Linked DNA regions of Homo sapiens: region 1 is linked to region 2. A link means that fine-mapping ties the variant in region 2 to the expression of a gene that starts in the linked region. Tissue or cell type: whole blood. Region 2 holds a variant in brackets; the other region holds the start of a gene. All regions are shown on one strand. Distances are from middle to middle.

Region 1 (5,000 bases), 66 kb before region 2:
GAATTTAATGAAGGTCAAAATACTTTCTCCTTGATGTTTATAAGCTGTTATATATCCGTGATTACCAGGATTGAACCTGGCCAAACCTTTTGATCTATAGAATTGGGACTTCTTATCTATAGAATTGTGACATCATAAATGGGTGTTGTTTTCAGCTGTTGAGTTTGTGGTAATTTGTCATACAGCAGTAGAAAAGTACGGGTTGAGTATCCCAAATCCAAAAATCCCAAACCCAAAATGCTCCAAAATCCAAAACTTTTTGAGTGCCAACATGACACTCAAAGGAAGTGCTCATTGGAACATTCTGAATTTGGGATTTTTGGATTTGGGATGCACAACCATTGTAATGCAAACATTCCAAAATCCGGAACAATCTAAAATCTGAAACATTTCTGGTACCAAACATTTCGGATAAGGGATACTCAATCTGTAATACAAGGGGATTGCATAAAGGCATGATTATCAGGAGGCAAGGAACATGGGGATCATGTTAGGTCTGTATAAGGGGCCACAGTAACCCTGTCCAGAACAGCAGAACTGCCAGTTAACTCATAGAATCATGAACTATAATCATGAATGGGGGTTGTCTTAAGCCACTCAGATTTAGACTGGTGTGTTATGCAGTTAAAGCTAATTGTTACAACTTCTGGGGTGAGAGAAGTATAGATCAATTCCTCTTAAATGAAAAGCTCCATCATATTTCCAAAGATACTGAAGAATATAGAAAGGGCATGAGATCTGAATTTGGGCCCGTGACTTTACAAGTTATCATTTATTGATGACTTACTTATTAGCACTGTGGTAGGAGCTGTATATTCTCTATCTAAACCATACAACTCTAAGGTAGGTATTTTGAAGGCTCAGTGAATCTATGCTATATTTTCATTTTGTGGAGTTAGATAACCTTGATTACATTCACCATCCAATCCTCAATTCTCTCGTCTATAAAATGGGCTTGATTATATTATTTAATTCACAAGATTACACTGCTCTGTAAACTCCTGTGCAAATATTAGAACTCATTACTAGCAGTCCAGGGTTCCGTTTTCACATAATATTTGCCACCGAAACTCATCTATAGTGACTACATCAACACACTGTATCTACATAGCATGTACTATATGAGCATGTATATCAACACTTGGTTTGTGAGAGTCTGCACTCTTATGGGTCTGTTCGCCTCCCTGCTTGATCAAGACATACCAATTAACTACCAAAAGAATATAATTCACAGGTGAATGATATGCTCTGGTTTTGGAATTGGGGAAGGGGAGCTAATATTTTTGAAGGCCTCTATGTTTCAGGCACCAGGCTAGATGATTTACTTCTAACAGCTGATTATGATTGAATTTGTTTGGACTGGGTCATTTAGAAACCACCTCAAGTAATTCTACTGTGAGCATGGGTCACAGTAGGATTCTACTGTGTATCCATGACTGAGAATTTCTGACATACAAAACCCCATTAAATCTTGCAAAAATATTCCAAAGTAGGTGATATGTTTATTTTACAGTAAGGAAATTGATGCCCACGGACATTAACTAACTTTCCCAAGAGCACACACCTTGTAAAGCCAAGTTTTTTGCCACTTTACCAAAATGACAGGTTTCTTGAACAGAGGAGACAATCACTCTCATCAAATTAAGGGAGATACTAAACCGAAAAGCAAGAAAGACTGAAGATTCCTACTTAATAATCAAATCCCCTTGGTTGACCTTGCTATCCCCCGTGAAACTTTTCCAGCCATGTCAGTCCTTGTTTGTTGATCTCCTCACTTTATTTCTATTACATGAGTAACTGGCTAATTTTGATGGTGTTCATACTTATCCTTACCATATATTTGCTCCTACATTTGTCAAGTCCTGCTTGTACATTTCCTAGTTGCCAACCTGGTGTCACAGCGGGCAAATCATGGGAAGAGCCCTGGTTTTGGAGCCAGACCACCTGAATTGGCCTCCCGCATGGACTTAGCTGTGTGGCAATGAGACAAGGCATTTTATTCTTTGAATTTCAGTTTTGTAAGCATAAAAAGGGGAAAAATAAAACCCAGAGTTTAGTAAGGTTTAGAAACGCTACACTCAGCAAGTCATAGCTAAGTCACCGTCACCAATGGTAGTCAAGTGTGTGGTGCAGCAGGAAACATTTGGAGTCGACTCCTTTACGGAACTCAAATGCCCTCACATTTAGGGAGAAATAGAAAGAATTACGACTCATGAAATCGAGCTGGGGCTGGCACTTCTGACCCTCCCAACAGGTTTCCAGAAAGCTATTTACACACGATGCATTCGCCAAACCACTGGAAATCATTCTACCCTGTACTTTTTTCCACCCTGCCTCACGTCCTTGCCCTATGACCGGGTTCCTACCCCAACCTCTGCCCCAACACTTAGAGGAGGAGTTGCGGGCCTCTTTTTACAGTGGATAGGATTCCGAAGGGGAGAGTAAATCAGTAAGGCTCCACCCATTTCACAGGAGGCCTAGAGACCGGCGCTCCCCTTTCCCCTCCCGCCGGACCTGCCAGGAGGTGGGCTGGCGCGGAGGGAGGGCCCTGTCCCCTGTCCCTTTAAGGAGGAGGGCCAAACGCCGGCCTAGAGTGCGGCGTAGCCCCCACCCGCCGTGCCCTCACCCCAGAGCAGCTGCAGCCTCAGCCGGCCGCCCCTCCGCCAGCCAAGTCCGCCGCTCTGACCCCCGGCAGCAAGTCGCCACCATGGTGAAGATCGTGACAGTTAAGACCCAGGCGTACCAGGACCAGAAGCCGGGCACGAGCGGGCTGCGGAAGCGGGTGAAGGTGTTCCAGAGCAGCGCCAACTACGCGGAGAACTTCATCCAGAGTATCATCTCCACCGTGGAGCCGGCGCAGCGGCAGGAGGCCACGCTGGTGGTGGGCGGGGACGGCCGGTTCTACATGAAGGAGGCCATCCAGCTCATCGCTCGCATCGCTGCCGCCAACGGGGTAAGGGATGCGCGGCCCCGCGCCGCTGTGCACCCTGGCGCGTGTGCGACGTGCGGCCCGCGGCGCCCTCCCTCGCTCGGGGCCGGCCGCTTCCGCGCGCTGCCGCCTCGGTTTCCACCTCCCGCTCCTCCCTCTCCTTCGCGCTCGCTCTTCTGGCCTGGAGGCCCGACGGAGGTCGCCGGGCTGGGGAAAGTGGCCACGGGACCCGGCAGACCTGCTCGCCTGACTCCCGGGGCGCCGGGAGGTGCGGGCGCGGAGCCTCCCAAGGTCACGCCCGACTCTCCGTCTCTAGCCGCTGCCTTCCCTCTCCCCGTCCCCCGCCCCTCCCGAGGCGTCTGACATTTGCCCTAACCTTGCAGCCTTGGAAGATACGATTACGGCGCAGAGTGCTGTCGCCTTAAGCAGGAAAGGTTAGACTGCCGCCGCCTCGCCCAGAGCCCCCTCGCATCCCGCCCGCTCCTCTGCTATTCTCGGCTAGGACTGGCGCTTCCCGCTGGCTCGGAGCCCGACACTGTGGGGCAAGGGTGGCGAGAGCACCCATCCCCCTGGGGCGTCAGGTTGGCAGATCTCAGCAGGCGGGTGCCAATCTTTTCTCCCCGCCCCCTAGTTTGCCTTGGTTCCGAACTCCTGCCCTTTGCGCGGCCTGCTTGCTGGGGGGCAGGCGTTTGAAACATCTAGTCTCTGCCCAGTGGTGCCCGGGATCTGTTCCACCGACGGGGCTGGAGCTGAATTTTCATTAGAATGGCAACATACCCAAAGACGCCCTTACGCAAGCAAGCAGTCGTGGCAGGCCAGGAAATTACCGCAACACCTTGGTTCCGCCCCCGGCCAAGGAAAGTTAACTGACTTGATTGGGCGGGTCCACTCGGATAGGGGAAATTAAAAAAAAAAAGTTTTTCAGTAAATCTGATATATGGAAATGTGGGGCCGGGCATGGTGGCTCACGCCTGTAATCCCAGCACTTTGGGAGGCTGAGGGTGGTGGATCACCTGAGGTCAGGAGATCGAGACCATTCTGGCTAACACGGTGAAACCACGTCTCTACTAAAAAATACAAAAAAAAAAAAAAAAAAAAAAATTAGCCAGGCGTGGTGGCGGGCGCCTGTAGTCTCAGCTACTCGGGAGGCTGAGGCAGGAGAATGGCGTGAACCCGGGAGGCGGAGCTTGCAGTGAGCTGAGATCCCGCCACTGCACTCTAGCCTCGGCGACAGAGCGAGACTCCGTCTCAAAAAAAAAAAAAAAGAAAAAAAAAGTGGATTGATAAGTTGGGGCTAATTATTCACTTACTTTTGTAAAACATTTCTAAGGAGTTCTGAGGACCAAGTTTTCTTTCTATATTTTAAGTGAGATTTGACTTATGCCCAATTCTTCTGGAACGCATCCCCTGAAATGGATATTTTTATTCATTTTAATAGTACTTTATTTATCTTATTTTGTTGACATTGAGTACTATTTGCCAAGCACTATGGTAAGCGCTTCATTTCTGGGTCTCATTTATCCTCCTGCAGCCCTATAAGGTAGATGCTATTATGGGTATCTTCAAGTTGCCAACGAGGACGCTGAAGCTTAGGTAGGTTAAATAATTTACAAAAACTATAATGGCAGCACTAAGAGTCCAATATAGATCTGCCAATCCCAAGAACTTGAACAGCTCCTGAGAATGAAGAATGAACAGCCCTTGATCTTGAAGATCTGTTTTCCAGGCTCCAAAATCTAAACTGGGCTCTATCTACATCTGCCTTCCTGGGCCAAACATTTATAAGCATCAGTGAGAGAAGATTGCCTGGATTTGTTTACTTTGTGGTCCTGAATTTTCAGACAAGCGCAAATTCCCATGAAAGAAGAACAGACAATAGCTGTATCCCAGTAGATCATTTCCCTGTTACCACCTGTGCTGAATTTGCATTTCATTCATTCATTCATTTATTCAGTCAGTCATTCAACAGATCCTGTTGAATACCATGTTCAGAGAAATGTGTGGACTAAAAGGATGATGCAGACCCAAGAGTTGTCCTTAAGGAGCTTACAGCAGAGTGGGAATTTTAGGT
Region 2 (7,891 bases):
ACTCAGGAAGCTGAGGCAGGAAGATCACTTGAGCGTAGGAGTTCTGGGCTATAGTGTGCTATGCCTGTCGGGTGTCTGCACTAAGTTTGGCATCAATATGGTACCTCCCGAGAGGGGAACCACCAGGTTGCATAAGGAGGGGTGAACCGGCCCAAGTTGGAAACAGAGCAGGTCAAAACTCCCATGCCGATGAGTAGTGGGATTGCACCTGTGAATACCCACTGCGCTTCAGCCTGGTGACATAGCAAGACCCCATCTCTAAAAAAAGAAAAGGAAAGAAAAAAAGAGGGTGCTGAGAAGACTTGCAGTAAAGGTGCCTGTTTACATAGCATTTGCTGAAGGACATTTCTCCAAAGAAAACATACAAATGGCCAACAGGCGTATGAAAAGGTGGTCCACATCACTAATCATCAGGGAAATGAAAATCAAAACCACAATGAGCTGTCACCTCACACCTGTTAGGATGGCTGTTCTCAAAAAGACAAAAGATAACAAGTGTTGGGAAGGATGTGGAGAAAAGGGAACCATCAGACACTATTGGTGGGAATATAAATTGGTATAGCTATTTTGGAATAACCAAAATATGGAGGTTCCTCAAAAAGTTAAAAATATTTTAGTACTAATATACGATCCAGTAATCCCTCTTCTGGGTATATATTCAGAGGAACTGAAATAAATATGTCAAAGAGATATCTGTTCTCTCTTGTTCATTCAATATTATTCACAATAGTCAAGATATGGAACCAGCCTAAGTGCCCATCTACAGATGAATGAAGACATTGTGGTGTGTGTGTGTGTGTGTGTGTGTGTGTGTGTGTGTATACCACAATGGAAAATTATTCTGCCTTAAAACAACAAAAACCAAAATCTTGCCAATCTTGCCATTTGCAATAACATGGATGAACCTGGAGGACATTATGCTAAGTGAAATAAGCCAGACACAGAAAGGCAAATACTGCATGATTTCACTTGTATGTGGGATCTAAAAAAAGTGAATCTCATAGAAACAGAGCAGAAAGGGGCTTACTAGGGGGTAGTGAATGGGGAAAATGGAGAGATATTGGTCCAAAGGGTACAAAATTTCAGTTATGTAGGATGTAGCAGTTCTAGAGATGGAATGTACAACATGATGGCTATAATGAATAACACTTGAAATGTACTAGGAGAATAGATCTTAATTGTTCTCACTATCACCACCACAACAAAAAAGGTAAGTAGGTGACAAGATTGATAATGTTAGTTGGCTTGACTCTAGTAATCAGTTCACTATGTATTTGTATATCAAGACATCATATTATATACCTTAAACATAAACAATTTTTATTAAAAAATTGAAAGTAAAATAAAATAAATAGCATTTGCCATGCTTATTTTTCCACAAAGGCTTTTTTCTTTTAACACCTAATTAAAATCCTGTGAAACTCATTTGGAAACCCCTGGCATAGTGGTTTTGAGCAAAGTTAAAGAGATCTTGTTTTAAATTCTATTCCTGCCACTTAATAACTGTGTGTCCCTGGGTAAGTTGTTACAATTTTATGAATCTTGGTTTCCTTGTCTGTCAAATGGCAGAGTAATACCTACTTCATCTAGTTGTTACCGGGGTTTAAGGAGATAATAAATGTAAAATGTTTAAACACTGTGGCTGGCATATAGGATTAACTTTTCAGAATAAGCAGCACTCTTAGTTTTTTTAGTCTAACTTTAAGTGTAACATAATGCTATTATAACCATTTTTAAGTATATAGTTTAGTAATGTTGTACATATTCATATTGTTGTCCAACGTATCTCTAAAACTTTTTTCCCCCAAAACTAAAACTCTGTACCCATTGAACAGCACCTCCCTGCTTCTCCCTTTTCACAATCCCTGGTACCACCTTTCTCCTTCCTGTGTCTGTGAATTTGACCATTGTAGGTACCTCACATGAGTAGTATAGTTGCTTTTATTACAGAAAGTGGGAGATGAGAGAATGCTTCACTTTTACATTTTTTCCAGTGGCCAGGCCCCAGTTTCAGTCATCACCAGTACCTTGTTGTGTTGTAGGCATCCCTAAAACTTCAACCAAAGGCAATGGGGTCTGCATTATAGACACTTAATAGCACAAGAGAAAAGGAAGAAGGAAATTGTGTTTGTCTTTTGATCATCAAGATAAATGCCTGGCACGTGGTAGATTCAAAGAGTGAATGAAATTTGTTTCCTCTGAACCATAGTCCTCAGCAGGTGGAATGGCAGTGGATGGTGTGAGGTTCCCACAATGCCCAGGTGTATCACCATCTAGCCGGGGAGCTGCCTTTCCTTATTCTGCAGCTGCTAGGCCATCAGCACTTTGTGGGGACTGCCCAAGCCCTAAGGGGAAATGTGGTAGTTTCAGCAGGTGGAGTTGATTCTCCTTTTCCAGGTATAATGGATCGGTGGAGATTTAGATAAGAAAAAGTAGCATTCAGCAGTAGAAAATGTACTACTCCTGGCTCTGCTATTGAGTCATTTAGTCAAATCACTTCATCTCTTTGGGTATCAGTTTTCTCATCTGTAAAATGGGCAGTTCAACCAGATTAGTAGTTTTTTTTTTTTTTTAATATTGAAAGCATTTATTAAGCAACAGAATTCTCTCTTTTTTTTTTTTTTCTTTAAGCGAGAAGTAGATGTGGGGAGGGGTTGTTGCATTTTTAAAGATTCCTGTATTAGGCCGGGTGCGGTGGCTCACGCCTGTAATCCCAACACTTTGGGAGGCCAAGGCAGGCAGATCACCTGAGGTCGGGAGTTCAAGACCAGCCTGACCAACATGGAGAAACCCCATCTCTACTAAAAATACAAAATTAGCCGGGCGTGGTGGCGCATGCCTGTAATCCCAGTCACTAGAGAGGCTGAGGCAGGAGAATTGCTTGAACCTGGGAGCCAGAGATTGTGGTGAGCCAAGATCGCAGCATTGCACTCCAGCCTGGGCAACAAGAGTGAAACTCCATCTCAAAAAAAAAAAAAAAAGATTCCTGTATTAGTCTGTTTTCACACTGCTGATAAAGACATACCTGAGACTGGGCAATTTACAAAAGAAAGAGGTTTAATTGGACTTACACTTCACGTGGCTGGGGAAGCCTCACAATCATGGTGGAAGGCAAGAAAGAGCAAGTCATGTCTTACATGAATGGCAGCAGGCAAAAGAGAGAAATTGTGCAGGGAAACTCCTGTTTTTAAAACCATTAGATCTCATGAGACCCATTCACTATCATGAGAACAGCACAGAAAAGACCCACCCCCATGATTCAATCATCTCCCACCGGGTCCCTCCCACAACACTTGGGAATTATGGGAGCTACAAGATGAGATTTGAGTGGGGACACAGAGCCAAACCACATCAGTCCCATTGGGAACAGTGTGGGAAAGAAATTGGAAGATGCACAAGTGGATGTGGAGGCACTCACTGCTCCAGGTAAGAGACAGGACATTGACTTAGCAAGACTTAACAGCAGGAGAGTGGAGAGAAAAGGGGGCCATGGAGAGAGATTTAGCGGGGAAAAGTCATTGAGGCCTGCTCATGGACTGGGCATGGGGAAAATGCAGAGGAAGATGTCAGGAGCAACTCCTAGTTGTTCACTTTACATGAAAGACTGTAGTGTTGATCCACTGAAATAGAAACTGCTGGAACTAGGTATTGGGGGAAATAACATGTGTTTGTTTTTGGATTTGTGGAGTTTGAGGAGCCTTGGAGACCTGGAAGTAGGCAGTCAGACGTACGGGTTTGGAGCTAAGCATCTGTGTTTAGAGGAAGTGATGGAAAAGCTTCTCTCTATGTCTTCCTCAGGTCATGTTGGCCCCCCTTATTTCCATTGCTCTGAAAGTGTCCCAGCTGCAGGAGAGGACGGGACGCACTGCACCCACTGTCATCACCTAAGAAGACAGGCCTGATGTGGTACGTCCCTCCACCCCCGGACCCATCCAAGTCATCTGATTGAAGAGCATGACAGAAACAAAATGTATTCACCAAGCATTTTAGGATTTGACTTTTTCACTAACCAGTTGACGAGCAGTGCATTTACAAGGCACTGCCAAACAAGATGCCCTTGGGAGCTGTGAGGGAAAGAGGACCTGCGGGCTTAGATCAATCTCAATTCCTTTTCATGCCCTCCTGCATTGCTGCTGCGTGGGTATTTGTCTCCTTAGCCATCAGGTACAGTTTACACTACAATGTAAGCTATAGGTGGAGCATCAGCAGTGAGTGAGGCCATTCTTCATCCTTAGGATGTGGCAATGAAATGATGGTGCAAGTTCCTTTCTCTTTTGTGAATCTTTCCCCCCA[T/C]TTCCTGTTTACATGTAACCCAACAAAATGCAATTTCTAGTGCCTTCTGTCCAATCAGTTCTTTCCTCTGAGTGAGACGTACTTGGCTACAGATTTCTGCCTTGTTTTGCGACATTGTCCCATTCACACAGATATTTTGGGATAATAAAGGAAAATAAGCTACAATTGCTTGTCGTCTTTTTTTCTTAACTGCAAAGTACTTTTTTGATTTTAGAAAGAAAAACAATTTTTTTTTTAGAAGGAGGGGAGTATTGTATTTTGTTTTCATGTCCTAGTCAGAAAATGAAATGGTCTCTAGGCTAGGTTGCAAATCCTTAGACTCAAGAACTGTAATTTTTTTTATTGTCCTGAATATTCTAAAAAGTAACATAAATTTTAAGAGAATTGTAATTTAAAATCTTAGCAGGGTCAACTGAGCTCTGGATTCTTCCAAGGTAGACAAATCAAGCTTGACATGGTTAACTTGGAACAAGGGAAAGGAAGAGTGATTTTCCTCTTCCTAGTGCTTAAATAGCAAAGCACTGGTACGTGCTCTGCAGTGCGGAGATGCCTTGACGCTTATTGAAGGGATGGAGGCAGAACCCTCAGAATCTGAGAGCAGGGTTACTGACATTTGGCCAAAAATCTGAGCCCACTGGCATCTTATTCAGCTCAGAACACTTATATTCCATCCATGAGTATATTATAGTTAAATAAGCGTAGACTTGAGAGCCAACAGACCCAAGTTTGAATCCCACTTGAGACCCTGAGTGACTTTTGAATATCATTACCCTATCCTTAAAGTGGGGATGAAAGTAGTTCTACCTTTATGAATTGTTGAGTACCTTAAGTGAGTACATTTGTGTAAAGCAGTGAGCACAGTATCTAGTGCATGGTACATTGTTAAATAAGTGAAAACTAGAATTATGTTTATGATACCATTTTTAGATTTTAAAGTACTGTATATACAGGAAAAACAAAAACTGTAACACTAATATTTGTAACACATTTTACATTTCCAAGGTACTTTCACAAAGTCACCTTGCCATATGGGCTATTCTAAAAAGTCAGCCCAGCTCTGTACCCCTCCCCTACTCAGTATGGACTCCCTGATACAGGTGGCAGGATCTTTATCTGGGGTAAGATTTCCATTGTTGCCAGCTCAGCAAACAAAACTATGCTTTGACAATGATGACAATGATGGTGGTGGTGGTGATGAGTTTGTCTGGAACGTTAACCCCTTGCCAGGCACTTTCCATATATTCTTTCTGAGCGCTTTCCATATATTCTTTAAATCTTCCTGACAACTCTGAGGTAGGTACTCTGAATATTCCCATTTTACAGATGAGGTTCAGTTACTCAACCAAGATCACACTGCTGGGGAGTGGTAGATGCTCCCAGACAGTGCAGCTCCAGCCCTACAGGGTTCAAACCACTTCAGATTTCTTCTACGGACTGTCTACTTCTAGGCTACACCTAACGTGGAAGAAAGGTGTGCAAATGCCCCTGTGCTTTACGCATTAAAGGGGGATACTGTGTGCTCTGGATGCCAAAGAATCTGTTATTTTGGCATTATATTAGCTCCTGCAGAGATCTGGATATCTGGATGTATCAGTCAGCCCGGAAATATGTATTGATCCACATTAAGTGTGAGGTGCTTGGGAGGAAGAGCTGTATAACACAGAGCCCATGCCATCAAGCTGCCTGTAAGACTTGCCAGGGGAATCGAATCTAGCACAAGTAGAAACTGTATGGGATAAATGTTATGAGTTGTGTAGGTAAAACCTACATATTCTCCAAGCACCTATTCTATCTCAGATGTTGGGCTAGATGCTTTCCAGTAACCCTCGAAGCAAGACATCATTCTTCTCGCTTTCCAGTTGAGGCAACTGAAGCTCAACAGAAGCTCATTAATTTGCCCCAGGTTCTCAGCTACCGTGTGATGGAACTGGAATTCTGACCCTAAGTATCGTTCATGTTTCCTGACCCTTTTCTGCCTCCTCATCTCTTGAATCAGCTGCGGATACTCCCAGTTCTGTGGCCCCTGGAATGGCTTCAAAAATTTCCTCCTCCCTGATCGTATTTCAACTGCTTTTCCTGCCTCCACTTGGCAACAGCTTGGAAGTTAAAAGCTCAGGGGAGGAAGAAGGAGGTGGCTGGAGCCATGGGGCAGTGGAGGTGGGTGTGGGTAGTAAGGATCACTGTGTCTCTCCAGGGCTTCCAAAGAGATGCCGCAGTGTGTGTGCCCCAGGGAGTGCGGGAGAGGAGTCCTGAGAGGCGGGCAGCAGCACCCAGCCAGGCTTCCCCGCCTTCCAGCGTTGATGTGGTCTGTGAGTCAGGCTTGTTTTCTTTGGGGTGTGGTGAGAATTACAGTGAGAAAATTGGGTTGGAACTGTTTGGGGCCCAATTCTGAAATTTCACTTTTTCTCTCCCTCTTGACATTCAGCTATTCTCTCAGAGAAGCAGTTTCCTGTTCAGCGATGTGCCCCAGGCCTACACAGTGGCCAGGCTTCCAGTGGCTGGGCTCTGCCTCATAGGGAGTGAAAGCAGAGGCCAAGCTCACTGTGGTTCTGGGGAGTGTCATCTCCTTGGCCCTTCAAGGCCAGGCTTGAGGACAGGGTCCCTCTGCCTCCTCTGCCATGCTGCTTTCTTCAACGTTTCTTGTTGACTCATTAGAAGCTGGCCTTGCTTATAAGAATTCTCCAGAAAACATATTACCATGAGTAAGAGGTGCCCCCCTTGTGTTTCTGCGTTCTGAACCCCCCCAGCAGAGGGGGTTGGATATGAGTATAACAGCCTTCATGCAGGACTCACTGCATGGCCTGTGGGCTTTGGCGGGGGCACCCCATGGCCTTCTGGCCTTCCCACTTGCCCCTTCTGATCCATTCTCCACACCACCAGCTAAGTACTCTTTCAAATGTTGAAGTGCAGAGGCCTTTGTGTAGCCTCCAGGTCCGTGTGACTCACCTGCCTGTCACTTCCCGCTCCTCTCCCCCTACTCACAGCCTTACATTCCAAGCTTCAGTCTTGGGGAACCATGGCACCTCCCTCCTGCCCCCAGGCCTTGGAAGCTGCTCTTCTTTCCACCTGAATCACCTTTACCCTCCATCCCACCCTCCACTACATTCTCCACCTTTCCCCTCCATTCCACCATCCGCCATATTCTCCCAACTCCTACTTGTTCCTCAGGTCTCAATTTAAACATCGTTTCCTCCAAGAAGTGCTTTCTGAGCCTCCAGTGTCTGGTTTGGGAGCTTTTTCTGGTGTTCCTATCACCTCTATTTCCCCCTTCGAGGCGCTTATCCCATTCTATGTTCATAACCTGTTTACTTTCCATTTCTTCTACTGCCCTGGGAACTCCTACATGGCAGAGACTGCCTTTTTCACCAGTGTTTACCCAGGATCTAGGCCTGTGTCTGGCACATAGCAAAAGCCCCATTAAATATTTTCAGAATGAGTGAATGAAATCTACTAGTTGCACGGCAGAATGTTTCATTATGCTGGAATCTCCCTGACCTATAAGGCAGGATTGTCTCAATTTTACAGGTGACAAGTGATTTGAGCAACTTCCATGCTAGTCACTGGTTAACCAAGAACTCTTTCAAAAAGTGTTAGAGGC

What was found. PIP is the estimated chance that this variant, and not a neighbour inherited with it, causes the effect.
Region 1: PGM1 starts here. The variant in region 2 is fine-mapped to the expression of PGM1 in whole blood (INTERVAL, PIP 0.98).

The regions. Positions count from the first base shown.
Region 1 is chr1:63,590,782-63,595,781 of GRCh38, forward strand. It overlaps PGM1 (phosphoglucomutase 1), which reads left to right and starts at 2,630. Exons shown (of 11, transcript NM_002633.3): 1 at 2,630-2,953. The coding sequence starts at 2,708. RefSeq lists enhancers at 2,617-2,906, 3,607-3,666 and a silencer at 2,947-3,246.
Region 2 is chr1:63,655,788-63,663,678 of GRCh38, forward strand. PGM1 (phosphoglucomutase 1) reads left to right here. Exons shown (of 11, transcript NM_002633.3): 11 at 3,799-4,458. The coding sequence ends at 3,888. It also overlaps the pseudogene RN7SL130P. Among named protein-coding and RNA genes, the nearest start is that of PGM1, 66 kb to the left of the region's middle. The variant T/C (reference allele first, on the strand shown) is at 4,294.